Linked DNA regions of Homo sapiens: region 1 is linked to region 2. The links come from fine-mapping of genetic effects on gene expression. Tissue or cell type: whole blood. Region 2 holds a variant in brackets; the other region holds the start of a gene. All regions are shown on one strand. Distances are from middle to middle.

Evidence for each region. PIP is the estimated chance that this variant, and not a neighbour inherited with it, causes the effect.
Region 1: it holds the start of NSMF, and the variant in region 2 is fine-mapped to the expression of NSMF in whole blood (TOPMed, PIP above 0.99).

What each region holds. Positions count from the first base shown.
Region 1 is chr9:137,456,209-137,464,208 of GRCh38, forward strand. NSMF (NMDA receptor synaptonuclear signaling and neuronal migration factor) reads right to left here and starts at 3,126. Exons shown (of 16, transcript NM_001130969.3): 1 at 2,824-3,126; 2 at 2,280-2,341; 3 at 1,199-1,693; 4 at 203-278. The coding sequence starts at 2,894. It overlaps PNPLA7 (patatin like domain 7, lysophospholipase), which reads right to left. Exons shown (of 35, transcript NM_001098537.3): 28 at 7,918-7,987; 29 at 7,207-7,323; 30 at 6,477-6,625; 31 at 5,971-6,123; 32 at 5,723-5,833; 33 at 5,328-5,412; 34 at 4,426-4,529; 35 at 3,744-4,268. The coding sequence ends at 4,185. RefSeq lists enhancers at 1,310-2,007, 4,831-5,764, 5,765-6,697 and silencers at 2,647-2,916, 3,007-3,356.
Region 2 is chr9:137,401,931-137,409,930 of GRCh38, forward strand. All of the region lies in intron 1 of EXD3 (exonuclease 3'-5' domain containing 3), which reads right to left. Among named protein-coding and RNA genes, the nearest start is that of EXD3, 17 kb to the right of the region's middle. RefSeq lists silencers at 4,889-4,968, 5,009-5,368. The variant C/T (reference allele first, on the strand shown) is at 3,905.

The sequences.
Region 1 (8,000 bases), 54 kb after region 2:
GGGGGGGGGGCTGGGCACCAGCCATGGGAGGGGAAGAGCAGTCAGCCCTGGCCTCCCTGGCAGGCCTGGCACAGCATAGGCACGTGGGTCTGTTCAGAAGCAGCCCCCCTGGTAGGCCCAGAGACTGGGAAAAAGTGCTGTTTCCTGAGCAGCAGAAAGAGACCACCCAACCCTGACCCCAAGTCGTGGGCACAAGACTCACGCTTGCATAGTTGTGGTTGCTGTCTGGAAGCTGAAAAGATTTTCCTTGGGGAACCAGGTACGAATAGGGATGTCGTCTAAGAGAGACAAAAAGGAGCGGTGGCTGGGTGAAGTAGGGGTTCCTGAAGCCTCTCCCTCCCTGTTGGGAAGCAGATGCTTCTGGGTCCAGGGGTCAGCAGAAGCTGGCAGCCAGGGCGGGTGGGGGGAGGGTGGCATCCCCACACGGGCACAGAGGGCAGTGCTCGAATGTCTGCTGCTCACTCACCAAGACCACGCTCTTGGTAACTTGACGCTTTGATTTTTTTGGCTTAACTTTCCCTTTGGCCACCCAAAGTTTGAGAAACATTCCTTTGAAAGCACAGTCTGTCTCCAGGAGGCCCAGGAAAACAATGCGTCTGTTTCCCTTGGGCAGAAGAGGCTCTGAGGCCTTCTCTGCAGCCCCCATGCTCTAGCTGGAGGCCCTCACCGAGGCTAGAGACCACCTTGCTGAGGGCTGTCCCCTTCCGAGGGCCCCCACAGCCTTTCCCTGATGCCCAAGTGTGGGGACAGTGGAGTGACTTTCTGCCTGGTGGACAAGCTACCACACAACTCAACAACCCTGGGGAAAGATGCCCACTGCCTGGCTGGGCCCCAACAGCTCCCCAGGACTCTCGGAGGGCAGCCCAGTCTCCTGATTAAGCGGTGCTTCCTCCCTACATATCCCTTAAGATCCTCCCAGGCCCCCTCCTCCAGGAAGCACTCCTTGATTGACCTGGTGCTAGCAGGGCGAAAGCGGACTGTGAGGCCTGGCAGATTTTGCTGAGGAGCTGAGGGAGCTCACAGCTCATAGGGTGTGGAGGCCGCAGCAGAAGCCTGCCGGTTTTAATCTTGAGTCCGCTGGCATGCTGTGACCTGAGCACCTGTTCTCTGTTCCAAGCCTCACAGTGGCTGCTGCTGTCAGACCCTGGCAGCGGCATGCACCCCCAAACCTGTCTATGCCCTGACACAAACCCCTCACCAGACACACGGTCAACGCTGTACATCCTCTCCAGCTTCTTGCGGCGACCGGAGGTCTCAGGCAGAGGTGGCTGGTCCAGCCCAAAGGCCCGAGGGGTGGGGCCAGGAGCCAGCTGGGCACATCCGGGGCACTCCTTGGAGCCCTGGCGGCTGCCCGCCCAGCTCTGGCAGGGCCTGCTGACGTCCTCCCGGCTGCCACCAGGGCTGGCGCGCAGGGGCTGGCTGTGATGGTGAGGGTGCCGCTGCCGCCGCCCCTTCACCACCGCCAGCTCAATGGCCTCCGCCTCAGGGCTGGGCAGCAGGGCAGGCTCCCCAGAGATGGTGTACACTCGAGGCTGAGGGCCCTCGCCTGCGGGCTTCCTAATGCTGGGCTCCTCTGAGAGGCTGCCCTCGTAGCAGCCGTTGGAGACGAGGGACAGGCGGCGCTTGTTCTGGGGGGCCGGCTGCATCTCGGGGGACCCGTCGTGGCCAGAGTAGGCATCAGCCAGCAGGTGATCTAGGAGAGACACTGAGTGAGCCTGCCTGCCGCGTGTGGGCCCCCCGCTGCCGGTTTCATAGCAGGCCGAAGGCAGAGAACACCCAGTGGGCACCTGGCCTCTGTGGGGGACTAGGGCTGCCCAAACCCTAGTCACTGGCGTGTTTCTGAGCCCCTCACTCCTATCTGGGCCTGAAGCTCTAGCATGTGCGTGGGGGCTGGGTGACGCTGTGCTACCTGTGTGCGGTCCTGCCGGGTAGGAACACGCAGGCCATCCCCCAGCCTGCGATCGCACCGTTTGCCTGGTGCCAACTTCCCCCTCCCCCCACCAGCTGGCCCCCAGAGGCAGTGGTGCCAGCCCTGGGGGAGCCAGGAGGCCTGTTGCCATGCCAACGGCCCAGGCGGGGTGGGTGCCATGGTGACGAGCGGCTGGGAACTGCTCCTGGGGCTCGGGCAGGGAGGGCAGGGGATGTAAGGAAGCCAGGCCGGCAGGGCGCCGGGCCCACGCGCAACCAATGCCCCTCACGCTCCACCCCCGGAGGCAGGGATCAGCATCCCTTGGGCTGGGGGGTCTGGGCGGCCCTGGCACGGCCTCGCGTGCCCCTACCTGCGCCGTTGCGGTTCTCAGGGTGACTCTGGGACAGGTACTCTCCAAACGCTCGGGCTGCTCTGAGGGTGGACAGAGGGCACGGTCAGAGGCCACGGCACGACCCTCCCAAACACCGGGCCGCGCAAGAGCCGGGGGTCCGGTCCCCAGCCAGGCCCTCGGCGTCTGGAAGGAGGGTCGGGGTCGTCCCCCTCCGGGAGCCCACACACCCTTGGTCCTGGTGCGCCCTGGCCAGGCCTGCAGGCCCGGCCCCTGCCCGTCGGACCGTGGAGAGGGGTCGCGAGGCCGGTCGGCTGCTGTTCCCCGGGGGAACCGAGGCCACTCCCGACCTGGGGGGTGCGCTCGCCCACCACGCGCTCGCGAGGGGAGGGGAGGGAAGAGCAGGGCAGGGGACCAGGAAGAGGGAGGCGCGGGGCGCGGGGAGGGCGCCTCAGTGGCAGAGGCCGGGGCCCGGGAGCCCGGGGAGCACCGCGGGGCAGGGGCGGACTCGGGCGGGGTCGGAGGTCCAGGGCGGGGTGCGGGAAGGCGGCCCCGCCGCACTCACCGCACTTTGGCCGCCACCGAGGACATGGCCTCGCTCCTCAGCGCCCTCCTCCTGGAGGCGGCGGCGCCCATGGTCGAGGCGGCGGCGCATCCCCCGGGCCTCAGAGCGCGCCCCGCGCCCGCCGCCTCCGCCGGGGTAGCCGCGCCGCACCGGGGGTCGCGCTCGGGCTCGGGCTCGGGGTCTCGCTCGGGCTCCGGCTCGGGCTTGGGCTCGGGGTCGGGCTCGGGGTCGGGCCCGGTCCCCGCATGGCCGCACCCGGCGCTCCGCGCGTGCCGCCGCTCCCGGGAGAGCGCTGCCCGAACCGAGGGCCGGCCCCGCCCATCGTGACGTCAGGGCCCGGGCGGGCCCAGAGGGGCGGTCGGCCCCACCTACCGTGACGTCAGGGCCCCGGAGAGCTCGGAGAGGACATGTGGCCCCGCCCACCGTGACGTCCGGGCCCGGGTTGAGTTGGGGGCGGGGCCGGGCGGCCTGGCTCCGCGCCCTCTCGTCCAGGCCTCCAGAGCGGGGAAACTGAGGCCAGCGGCCCCCTGGTCGCAAAGTCCTGGGCCCTCGGCCCTCACGATCTGCTGCTCAGACCTGCAGGATCACAGGGAGGCCGGTTCTCCCTCCCCTTACACAAAAGGGCTCCCTGTGCAGTTTGGGAACTGGAAACCGAAGGGGAAGCCAGTTTAGGGGGCACCCAGTTTGCACGAGGCCAGAGAGAGACAGAGGGGCCCGTCCTGGTCCTGGGGGGCCACAGCTCTATGCAGACTCTGGACGCCCTACCTGCCTGGCCTGCATTTGCCGCCCTAGGGCTCTCAGGCCCCAGCAGTGGGGTCCTTTGAGGAGGACTGGGGACTGCCCAGCCTCAGGGACCACCCGCATCAGGGAGAACCAGTAGTGTTTCTTTGCCACAGGGACCTCGGCCCGGGAGACACGTCCAACAGTGAGATCCACCTTTATTGAAACATCACACGGCAGCATCAGGGCTCCCACACCTCACAGGGCAGCAGGCAGTTCACAGGACAGCAGGCAGTTCACAGGGCTTTGGGGGCCTCACAGGGCAGCAGGTGGTTCACAGGGCTTCGGGGGGCCTCACAGGGCTTCGGGGGGCCTCACAGGGCTGCAGGGGGTTCACAGAGCTTCAGGGGCCTCACAGAGCTTCAGGGGCCTCACAGGACTGCAGGGGGGCTCACAGGGCCCTGTATGCAGGGCTGCTGGTACAAAGAAGAGGCCCAGAGAACCCTAACACAGCCTGGGGCCCCGGGGAAGTCAGGGCTTCCAGCAGGGCAGGTACAGAGGCCCCTAGGACTTGGCAGGAGCCTCAGCCTTGGGGACAGTCCCACGGAAGACGCTGCATCCGGGCTCTTTAGCAGAGGCCTCTACCCGTCCTGGTCAGAGGAGCCCTCAGACAGTTTTGGGAAAGCCAGACTGGGGTGTCGATGCCGCAGTGAGGACTCGTCCTCCTGCAAGCAGACCGCATGTTCCAGGTGAGGACCAGGCAGGGCAGGGGCTCTGCAGCGCTGGTAACCCGGTGGGACCACAGGGAGGGAGTGGCCGGCACAGGGCCAGGCACCAAGGCTCAGCTGTGGGCACCAGGTGGGACCATGCCCAGCTCCTCACCAAGTCTGAGCCCTGCTGGGCTGAGGTGCTCTGGAAGTCTGCGTATGCATCCCTGGGGACGTCCAGCAGCTCCTCCTCGTACTCCGTCTGGTAGTCAGATTCGTCTGGCACCGAGGGTAGGGCTGCGTCAGTCCCCTCCCAAGGAAGGGACCGTACCCAGCATAGCCACACTCAGAGGCAGAACCGGCCACAGATGCCCACCCCCGCCTCCAAGGTGGCCCGGGGCCCTACACGCAGCCACCTGGTCCCAGGGCAGCCCTGCACACCACCCCTGGTTCTGTCTGGCTCCAGCTTTGCCCCAGCACATCACTTCGTGGGTCTTCCACAAGGACAAGGAGCGGGCAGACACTCCTCCCCTTGTCAGCCAAGCACCCTGAGGGCTCCAGCACCCCAGACCTGGCAACTGTGGATAGGGGCTGCCTTGCCCAGGGCCCTCTCGGCCTGCGGCAGCCATGAAGACGTCTCCCAGGAGAATGTCCAGTTCTGCTGTGAGGAGGCCACTGGCTGAAGGCCCAAGCGCAGGGCCCTGGATGGAGCATGGAGGGTAGTGGACCCGCCCTTCTTGTCCTGCGGCCCCTCCAACAAGCAGCCTTCATTCCCATTTCCCACTGGGTGGGGTGGGAGGCAAAACGTGGTTCTACTTCAGGCCTGAGGTGTGGCTGGGAGTTGAGGTGAATGAAGGGCAGGGGCTGGGTGACCCGGGGTGGTCACAGTCCCACTGCTGTGGGAACACGTGGTGCCCGGGACGGAGGAGTGCCACCAAGCACCCCAGCTGCTGGAGCCTGGGCGTGGACGTGGGCGGGAGGGGAGGCCGTGGGCCTCTGGGGTGGGGGGGTTCAAGCCCAACACAGCATCAGGAGGTCACGCACGTCTCCACGGCTTCGTCTTGCGCCTCCACTCACCATCCACCATGGCGGGCTTGGCGGGCTCAATGCGAGACACAATTTCGGCAAGGTCCGTGAAGGAGGCGTTGGGACAGGTGAGGACCTAGGGGTGGGGTGAGGACAGCACGTTGCCTGTGGACACCCGCCTGCCAGTCCCCAGCCTGCTTCCTGTGGGGAGGCCCCACCCACCCTGCGCCCTCTCTGCAGCCTCCGCCTGCCCCCCAAGTAAGGGCAGGGACCGGGGAGATGCGCAGTCCTGAGCAATCCTTGTCCTGGCCCTGGAGTCTTTGGCCAGGGGGGCAGGGCCTGTGGCCTGAGGAGCTGGGCGTGGCCTGATGAACTGGGCGTGGGCGTGGCCCGAAGAACTGGGCGCGGTCCGGGGAGCTGGGCGTGGTCCGGACGCCCGTACTCACCGCACTCGCGGGCTTCTTGCTCGGCCCCTGCTGGTCGCGGAGCATCTTCTCCAGCACGCCGCTGCGGCCCCAGATGTCAAACACCGTGCGCCCGTGCTGGTAGCCCACTTCCTGTGCACACCCCCAGGGCCCCGTCAGGAGGTGTGGGGAGCCCCCCACTTCCTGTGTTCTCAAAAGGGGGAAGCGAGGAGGGGCAGCCACCAGAGTGCCTCCGCCCGCCTCCGCCGCCGCGGGTGGCCGGCACTCACGCAGATCTCGTTGAACTTGCCGAAGTCCAGGGTGCTGTAGCTGTCGATGGGGGGGCGCAGGTACTCGCAGTAGTCACTGCTCTTCACCACCTCCAGCTGCCGCACGCAACACACGTAGGCCAGGCGCGTCTGAATCTCTGCCATGTTCAACACCTGCTGCCGTCACAGCCGCCTGAGTCTCCTGCCCCGGCCCCTACCCCGTCCCAGCCTGGCCCGTGGCGCAGGACAGGTTCTGGGGACCCATCCTCTGGGGTAGGTAGGTTCTGGGGGGAGAGGGTAGCAGCACCCGGCCGGGGGTCCTCCCTGCGGGCTGCCACAGCCTTCAGGCCCGTCCGGCCTCGTGCCTTCCTTCGCCCGAGTTGGGCTCAGGCAGGGGTGGTGAGGGGTGGCCCCAGACCTGCTGGCCTCAGAGCCCAGGAGCGACCCCCACTCCCCTGCCGCAGGACAGGTGTGGAGCTGCAGGGAGGAGCAGCAGGGACAGCCCAGCCTGCCCGGTAGCACCCCACCTTGACTTTCGTGGCCAAGGGGTTCCAGCGTTTCCACAGCAGCCACCACCCAGACAGCGCATCCCCATAGTTGGTGAGGTCCGTCTCATCTCGGCTGCCCACGTCAATGGCGATCACCACTTTTGCCCCCATGGACCGGGCCACATCCGCTAGGGAGAAGCCAGCCCTGGTTACCCCCTGGACAGGCATGCAGAGCCAGGGGACGGGGGCAGAGCCTGCCTCTCCGAGCCCTGACGTGGGGGTTGTGGGGTCTCCTCTCCGCCATTACACCTTCTAGAGGCAGAAGACCCACATGCCCAGCTCGATGGGCAGCTGTGGGCACACGGCTGTGTCCTGGGCCTTTCTGACCGTATATCCCACAGGTGACAGGAGTGGCCTGGCCTGGCCCCCAGCAAGCTCGACACCTGCAGGCTGTTAGTTTCTGACTGTGGGCACAGATGGGGCTTAATTGCTCCCAGTTCCTCGACTTGGCCTTTGTTCTGCATGCTGCTGAGCTGACAAACAGGGCCATATGCTGGAGCACATGCTGCCGGTGCCTGCGTGTGCATGTACACGCGTGTGCATGTTCTCGGAGCTCTGATGCCAGCCTGACATTTTCCCTTGGCATACTCTAAGGAAAACGTGTTCCAGCCCAGGCTTCTTGGAGCGGAGGCAGCTGTGGCAGGGGCCGTGGGGCGGCGTGACCCAGGAGCCTGTGCTCCTGCCGGGCGTGGTCCCCCCACCGCAGTACCTGGGAGGTTGTTGATGTAGCCCCCGTCCATCAGCAGGTGTCCGTCCTTCGGGTCACAGAGAGGGGGCATGTAACCGGACAGGGACATGCTGGCACGCACGTACCACCACAGGGAGCCTGGGGAGGGGGCCCGGAGCTGCTGGTTACCCGGAGGAGGCTCCTCCTGGGTCCAGGGTTCAGGGCCTTGCCACTGCAGTCCTGGAGCTGGTAGGTCCCAACTCTCTGAGGCCGCCTCCACAGAGGGAAGCTCATGGCCCAAGGGCTGAACAAAATTGAGTTCTTTCTCTGGGGTCGCACTGCATTACATGTGCCCAGGACTTCGAACTGCTGTGACCCCCTCACCCCAGGACTGAGGGAGCCCCTCACCCCATGACCGAGTGAACCCCTCATCCCCCTGAACCAGGTGAGCCCCTCACCCCAGGACTCAGGGAGCCCCTCACTTTGTCCTCTCACATGGTATCCATCAGTCTAGCCCAACATTGCTGATTCTGTGAGGGTCTCCTCCAGCCTTCTGAGGTCTCTGGCCCAGGCCACGCCCCCTCCTGTCTGTGCCCCTAGTAGGGGCATCCTGTGTCCTCCATGGACAAAGCTGCCCATACGTCTGCATCCTTCAGGAGACCCCGCGGCCTTCCCAACCCCTGGGGCTGCTGAGCTCTCCCCCTGCCCACACCTCGCACCCAAGCGGCCGCCCTGCGCAGCAGGAGTGCTCACCGTCGGTGTGGACCCGCATGGCCGAGGCTGTGATGTCGGTGGTGATGGCGAAATAAGGAATCCACAGGTCCTGCGGGCGGACG
Region 2 (8,000 bases):
CCTGAAAAAATTGGTTTTTCTTTTCTACTGCGTCAGGTTGCACATTTTCTGAATTTTTATGCTGTTTCCCTTTTTAAACATAATTCTTTTTTAGTTTTGTTTTTGAGATGGAGTCTTGCTCCGTCACCAGACTGGAGTGCAGTGGTGTGATCTCGGCTCACTGCAACCTCTGCCTTTCTGGTTCAAGTGATTCTCTTGCCTCAGCCTCCTGAGTAGCTGGGATTACAGGTGCGTGCCACCACGCCCGGCTAATTTTTGTATTTTTAGTAGAGATGTGGTTTCACCATATTGGTCAGGCCGGTCTTGAACTCCTGACCTCGTGATCCGCCCGTCTCAGCCTCCCAAAGTGTGGGGATTACAGGTGTGAGCCATTGTGCCTGGTCCCAGAATGCTTTTAACAGCATCCAAGTCAGCTTTTGAATGCTTTGCTGCTTAGAGATTTCTTCCACCAGATACCCTAAATCATCTCTCTCTCAAGGTCAAAGTTCCATAAATCTCTAGGACAGGCACAAAATGCTGCCAGTCTCTTTGCTAAAAGATAACAAGAGTCACCTTTGCTTCAGTTCTCAACAAGTTCCCCATCTCCATTTGAGACCATCTCAGCCTGGACATTATTGTTCATAACACTATCAGCATTTTTGTCAAAGCTATTCAACAAGTCTCTAGGAGGTTCCAAACCTTCCCACATCTTCTTGTCTTCTGAGCCCTCCAAACTGTTCCAACCTCTGCCTGTTACCCAGTTCCAAGTCGCTTCCACATTTTTGGGTATCTTTTCAGCAATACCCCACTCCACTGGTACCAATTTACTGCGTTAGCCCGTTTTCACGCTGCTGATAAACACATACCTGAGACTCAGAACAAAAACAAGTTTAATTGGACTCACATTTCCACATGGCTGGGGAGGCCTCAGAATCACGGTGGAAGGCGAAAGGCACTTCTTACATGGTGGCAGCAAGAGAAAATGAGGAACCAAAAGTGGAAACCCTGATAAAGCCATCAGATCTCGTGAGTCATATTCACTACCATGAGAACAGCATGGGAAAGACCGGCCCCAGGATTCAATTACTGCCCCCTGGGTCCCTCCCACAACAGGTGGGAATTCTGGGAGATACAATTCAAGTTGAGATGTGGGTGAGGACACAGCCAAAGCATATCACCCGCCACGGGAGACCCTGTGGCTCGGCTTGGCTCATTTCCTGCAGGATCCCCGGCGCTGACCCCTCTCCCCTCCATGGCAGTGTGGGGACTGCTATGCATATCTGAAAGTGAGGCACTAGTCATCTGCTTGGAAATGGGTTGGGGGCACCCCAGGAGTGGGGCCCCACTGTGAGTGACCTGAGGGGCCCCAGAAGATGCAGACCCGAACGCGTCTCCTCCCGGCTGGTCTGTCCAGGAAAAAGCCCTCCCAGCCGCACCTGCCAGCCACTGAGTTTGGGGGCACAGGCAGGGAGCTGCAGACCCCGTTCCTCTGTAGCCCTCCCCACCCCCAGCCCAGCAGCAGCAGCAGCCAGCACACCCTGGCCCAGGGTCTCCGAGGGTCGGGGGCCGCAGGGTCTGGCAGCACCCCATGAAGGCCGCCCCAGGTCCGTTTCAGCCCTCCAGACGCCCGTACCCAGGAAACCTGGGCCTCCATTCCCGAGCCCCCCAGTTTTCGCCTCTCTCCTTCTCTTTGCCCCTAAGGGGTTTTGCCTTTTTAATTCTTTTGCTGTCACCTTAATTGGCCTTGGGGGAGATGGACCAGCAGGCCCGAGATCCAGGGTCTTAGGGCTCCTCCCAGCAGGGCAGACCCAGCCACGCAGAGCCCACCGCCAGCTTCCAAGGGCTCCAGAAAGTGGTCGCTGCCCTTCTCAGAAGGCCCTCTCCACCATGCCCAGAACCGTGGATGCCCCAGCCTGGGCTCTTCACCAGGAAATGAAGGGGAAGACAGACCTGTGGGATAGGGATGGGTCCCGAGGCGGGGCAGTCACACCCCCACGCCATCTCTGCATAGACCCCGAAGGATGTGGAGTGTCCTCCAGGGCCGTACAAAGCACCACACACAGGGCGCGAGTGACAGGGACGTGTGTCCTCACTGTCCCGAGGCTGCAGCTCTGAGACTGGGTGGGGAGGGTGGGCCCCACTCCCTGGGTCTCCTCCCTGGGTCCTCACGGGTCCCCCCATGTGCGTCTGTGTCCTGATCTCCCCTTCTTGTGGTGACACCAGTCCTACTGGATTAGGGCCCACCCCAACGACCTCATTTTACCTCTGCCAAGACCCCATCTCCAAATACAGTGACATGGCGCCTAGGGCTTCAACATGGGAATTTGGGGGGAAACAACTCAGCCCACAGCAGATCGCGGGTCCTTCCCCAACAGAGGCAGAGGCTCCCCACGCCAGCTCTTGGGGAAGGGTCAGGGAGCCCACAAGGCCTCTGCACACTATTCCCTCCGCCTTCATGAAAGAGGCGTGCCCATCTCCCAGATGAGAAAACTGAGCTCAGCCAGGATCAAAGCAGGTCTCGTCCCAGTCTCCTCACTCTACCACTCTCCACTTTTATTTGCTTTTTATTGCCTCAGCTGCCTATAAAGGCAATTATGCATGTAATACAATATTTGGAAAACTACATTTGCAAATTCTGAAAAATCATGCAAAAAAAATCACTAAAAGCCGGCCAGGCGCGGTGGCTCATGCCTATAATCCCAGCACTTTGGGAGGCCAAGGCCGGAGGATCACCTGAGGTCGGGAGTTCGAGACCAGCCTGACCAACATGGAGAAACCCCATTTCTACTAAAAATATAAAATTAGCTGGGCGTGGTGGCACATGCCTCTAATCTCAGCTACTTGGGAGGCTGAGGCAGGAGAAATGCTTGAACCCGGGAGGCAGAGGTTGCAGTGAGCCAAGGTCGCACCATTGCACTCCAGCCTGGGCAACAAGAGTGAAGCTCTGTCTTAAAAAAAAAAAAATCACTAAAAGCCACAGTCCCCTCCTGGCCACGCCTGTCTCCTCCTTGCTCCCAGTGCCACCTCATCTGCCTCAGCCCCTACCTATCCCCTCAGAGCTGTTGCCACAGCCCTCCCAGGTGCTCGAGGGGACACAGTGCTATCCCCCAGGCGAGCCGGGTGCTGGGAGGGGACACGTGCTGTCTCACAGGTGAGCCAGGGGCTGGGAGGGGACACAGTGCTTTCCCACAGGTGAGCCAGTGGCCATTCCCAAATTCCCAGGGCCTCTGCCAGCGGGTGTCCAAAGACCCTACTTGGGAGCCCCGCACATCCGCACATCCCACCCTTGGACCTCCTAACTGCGCTGGGGTCCGGCACAGTGGGCTCTGACCCACAGAGGGCTGGGCCAGCACCCCCGGGGGAAGGCGGTGGGCACCCAGGGCCAGAGCAGGGGCCAGAGCCCCAACCCCCGCTGCTTCCCCAACTGCTCCCTGGGGACCCCTGGACCACAGGACCAACGGGGGCAGGGTGGGCCCCCCACACAGGTCCTGGACTCATTCGTGCTGGTGTCCGTGGCCCAAGGATTTGCAGAGCCGCGGACGGAGCCCAGGGCGGCCGTCGCAGGCCACTCACCCGTCCCCAGCCACTCACCCGTCCCCAGCATCCACAGTTTCTCAGGCTCTCAACAATAAACTTTACGTCTCATGGTTCAAGAAATGCCAGGCTCTGGGCTGAGAGGCAGAAGGCTCAGGCACAGCTCCCACTCTGTAAGGCAGCAGAAGCCACCATTTCTCTCTATTGTTGGTTTCCTCCCTGGATCTTCTGCTGAAAGCACATTTGATTTTCTTACATCACATTGAAGTAGATCAAGTTCCTGATAAATGTTAGAGTTAGCCTGACTCAGCATGAGCCTGGCTTCTCCTGCCGGCCGGCACAGGGGTGGGTACCATGCACATGGTCTCCCCGCCCTGCCTACCATCTGCTG[C/T]CCTGGAACCCTTGGTGGGACCCGCTGCCCACAGACACCTTGCCCGTGCCCCAATGCCAGGCAGAGGCCTCTGTGCTCTGAAGAGTGAATAAAACGTGAAACTGGCTGGGCACGGTGGCTCACGCCTGTAATCCCAGCCTTGTGGGAGGCCGAGGCGGGAGGATCACTTGAGCTCAGGAGTTTGAGACCAGCCTGGGCAACATAGTGAGACCCCATCCTATGAAAAAAAAAATCAGCTGGGCGTGGTAACATGCACCTGTAGTCCCAGCTACTCAGGAGGCTGAGGTGGGAGGACCGCTTGAGCCCAGGAGGTCAAGGCTGCGGTGACCCAAGATTGGGCCACTGCATTCTAGCCTGGGTGACAGAGCAAGACCCTGTTTCCAAAAAAGAAAAAGAAAAGAAAGAAAAGAAAAGAAAAGGAAAGGAAAAGAAAGAAAATAAAAGGCAAGGAAAAAGGAAAAAAAAAAGAAAAAGAAAAGAAAAAGAAAAAGAAAAGAAAGAAAAATGAGGCCCCTGCACAGAACCAGGGTGGCTGGCAGCAAGTTATCTGGAGCTGAGAGCTGGGGGCTGAGTGCAGCCAGGGCGGGGTGAGCCTCGTGACACCCCCATCGCACAGGGAGGCCCTGACAGGAGGCCGCTCCACCTCTGTTTGTCTTGTCCCAAACGGCAGAGGCGACGGCTGCTCTTGGCCAACACTCCTGCCCCTGGCGTGCCCCGTGGCCGTCTGGAGGGTGGACTTGGCTTCCTGCACCAACGCACCCCTCGACCCCCAGACGGCAGCGGCATTAGTGGCGCTGATGGTGTCTGATGAGCAAATGAATAAAGGCAGCAGGTCCCCCACCACCACCTCCATTCCCACGGGCACTCCCAGCGGCTTCTGGAAACTTCCCTGGGCTCTCAGTACTCCCCCGGCCACAGCCTCAGTGGGCGGTAGACCCTCTCCCCAGCCCTCCTCTGGGGTGTCTGTGTCCCGACCCCCACCCCAGGCCGCTCCTCAGCCCCCACCCCTCCCTTCCAGGAGTGCAGCCCGTCCCCCCTCAGCAGGCTGGGGACGGCCTTGCGCGCTGCGGGGACCCGACGGGGCAGCCCCAGCCAGGCCGTCAGGCTCCGAGAGAGGTGCGGAGCCAACACTGCCTCCCAGCGTCCCAGGGTCCTGTGACCGGGAAGGCCCCGCATCTGCTGCACCCGGAGTGGTGGAGGCCAGAACGCTCGCCAGCAAACCCGCCCGTTCACAGAGGCACCGGAGCGGGCGGGCGGGGGCGGCCTGCGGAGCAGCCAGTCCCGGGCACCCCACGCCGACCGCCGCGCGTCCGGGCCGGTCTCTGGGCCCCTCTGCTGGTGGAACCCGGCAGCGCCTCCTCCGTCTCAGCCGCGTCGGTCCCAGGCGCCTCCCCTACCCGCACGCCCAGGCTGGGTCTCCGTTTCCCACCAGGCCAGCGCTGCAGGCAGAGCCCAGCCCGGCGGCCGCGGCGAACACGGGGCGGCCCCTCCACCTCTGTCCGCCTGCCCTAAATACCGCAGAGGTGACTGCTCCCCCGCGAAGCCCACCCACCTGAGGTCCTGGCCCCCAAGGGGCCATCTGCCCCCGGCTCACCGCAGGCCCTTTCCTGGGGGCCTCTGTGCCGTGCAAAGGGCAGGTCTGGCCGCTCTCGGGCTCTGCCCTGCCAGCCCCACAACCCAGAACCCAGCGTCCCCGCCCCCATCTCCCGGGATCCCTTGGCTAAGGGAGGGTGACTGGTGGCCCGCAGGCCCTTCAGAGGGTCCCTGACAGGGAAGGATGGAGACGCAGCTCCAGACCCCAGAGTGCGGCCCCCCAGACACACCCACGGCCGTCCACCATCCAAGCATAAACCCCAACGCAGCGGCTCCTGGCCTGGTTCTGAAGACGGCCCAGCTGGAGTGGGAGAAGTGCCCAGTGCTTCCGTCACTGGAGCCCACGGGTCCACAGGCATTCGAGGTCTTGGATGCGCCGGCTGGACCCAAGGACACACGCGGGAGGCGGGAGGCGGGAGGGGCACAGCAAAGGGTCTGGGGGGAGGCCGGAGGGGGCTTTCCCCTTGGGCACCATGGACACCCCAGGCCCCGCAGCACACAAATGCGGAGCCTCAAGCCTCCAGGGGTTTTCCAGCCTCACGCCTCCGGGGGTCTCCCCAGCCTCATGCCTCTGGGGATCTCCCACCCTCATGCCTCCTGTGGTCTCCCAGCCTCAGGCCTCCAAGGGTCTCCCTGGCCCAACCTCCTTGCTGTGTCTCCAGAAAGCTCTGAAGCCCAGCCCCTCCTCCTCACGTTCGACTGCGCTGCGTGGGTGTTTTACTAAAACCCAACAGTGACTCTTCCTCTGGGCGCCTGGATGTGTCTCCTCCAACATTTGGCCGGCCCTGCACGTGCCCCAAAGCTCCCAAGGGGCTTTTAAGAGGGCTTTGGGGTGGGGGGGCCGGGCATGGTCGCTCACGCCTGTAATCCCAGCACTTTGGGAAGCTGAGGCGGGAGGATCACGAGGTCAGGAGATCGAGACCATCCTGGTTAACACGGTGAAACCCCGTCTCTACTAAAAATATAAAAATTTGCCGGGCGTGGTGGCGGGCGCCTGTAGTCCCAGCTACTCCGGAGGCTGAGGCAGGTGAATGGCGTGAACCCGGGAGGTGGAGCTTGCAGTGAGCCGAGATCGCACCACTACACTCCAGCCTGGGCGATAGAGTGAGACTCTGCCTCAAAAAAAAAAAAAAAAAAAGAGGGCTCTGGGGGAGACAGCAGCCCCTACGGCCCCCACACCTCCCCCCAGCTGCTCAGCAAGGCCCTCCAGGGACGTCCAGCACAGCTGAACCGGCCCCTCAGACCAATGGTAACCCCAAATCTGAGACTGGGGGCCTTTTATCTGCGTCCCTTGAGTGGGCTGTGAGTTCCAAGATCCTCTTTAAAAAAGGTGGAGCCTCGAGCCAATCGGAATGGACAGACCCACCCTGTACAGGGAAGCCAGGCCAGCGGGCGCACAGGCCCAGGACCCGGGCGCAGCTTGTCTCTCACCATCAGGCTGGGTCAGCCCCTCTCCACAAGTCTGCAGGGCTGTTTTTATCCCTGAGCTCAGGATGAACTTGTACAAGGCCCCGATGGCACTCACTTTGCTGATCAGCCTGGGAAGGGGGCAGTCGGCCTGTCCCTTCTGTGGGAGGGCGGCTGCTATAATTTAAAGTGTGTCCCTCTGAAACACGCTGGAATTCCATCACCATGCTGCGGCGTTTCAAGGTGGGGCCTTGGGACGTGCCCGGGGGGTGAGGATCCTGCCCCACTGGAGGGATTAATCCATTCATGGATTCCTGGGTTATCACGGGAGTGGAACTGGTGGCTTTATAAGAGGAGGAGGAGAGGCCTGAGGCCTGAGCCCGCATGCTGGGCCCTCACCATGGCTGCCCCGAGCCGCCTCAGGACCCTTCGGAGTCCCACCAGCATGAATACCTCCTCATTCAGAATCCCGCCAGCATGAACGCCTCCTCGGATGCTCCCCTCACCCTTAGACTTAGCCTCCAGAGCTGTAAGAAATAAATTCCTTTTCTTTATAAATTACCCAGTTTTAGATATTGTGTTTTAAGTTAACAGAAAACTGGCCCGGCGTGGTGGCTCACACCTTTGATCCCACCACTTTGGGAGGCCAAAGCAGGCGGATTGCTTGAGTCCAGGAGTTTGAGACCAGCCTGGGTAACATAGCGAGACTCTGTTTCTATGAAAAAAACAGGTATCTATCCAGGCATGGTGGCATGCGGCGTGTAGGGAGGGAGCTGTGTCTACAAAGCCCTGGACCTAAAAATGGCCAAGTGGAGACATGGGCTGATGTGACTGAGAATGGAAACGGCTGGCAAGGATTCAGTTCACATTCCCTCGCTGCACACTCTCTGTAACTGGCCTCATTTTAGGATGAAAAAGCCTGTCTGGATCTCTCAGCATCTTTCTCGGAACGTGGTGCCAGGTCCCAAGCCCACACCAGGACAAGCGGGGCTCCCCAGCTCCCTGATGGGGCGACACCACTCACCAGTTTTGCAGCTTCCACTTAAAATTAACAACTGCTGGCTGGGCGCGGTGGCTCACGCCCGTAATCCCAGCA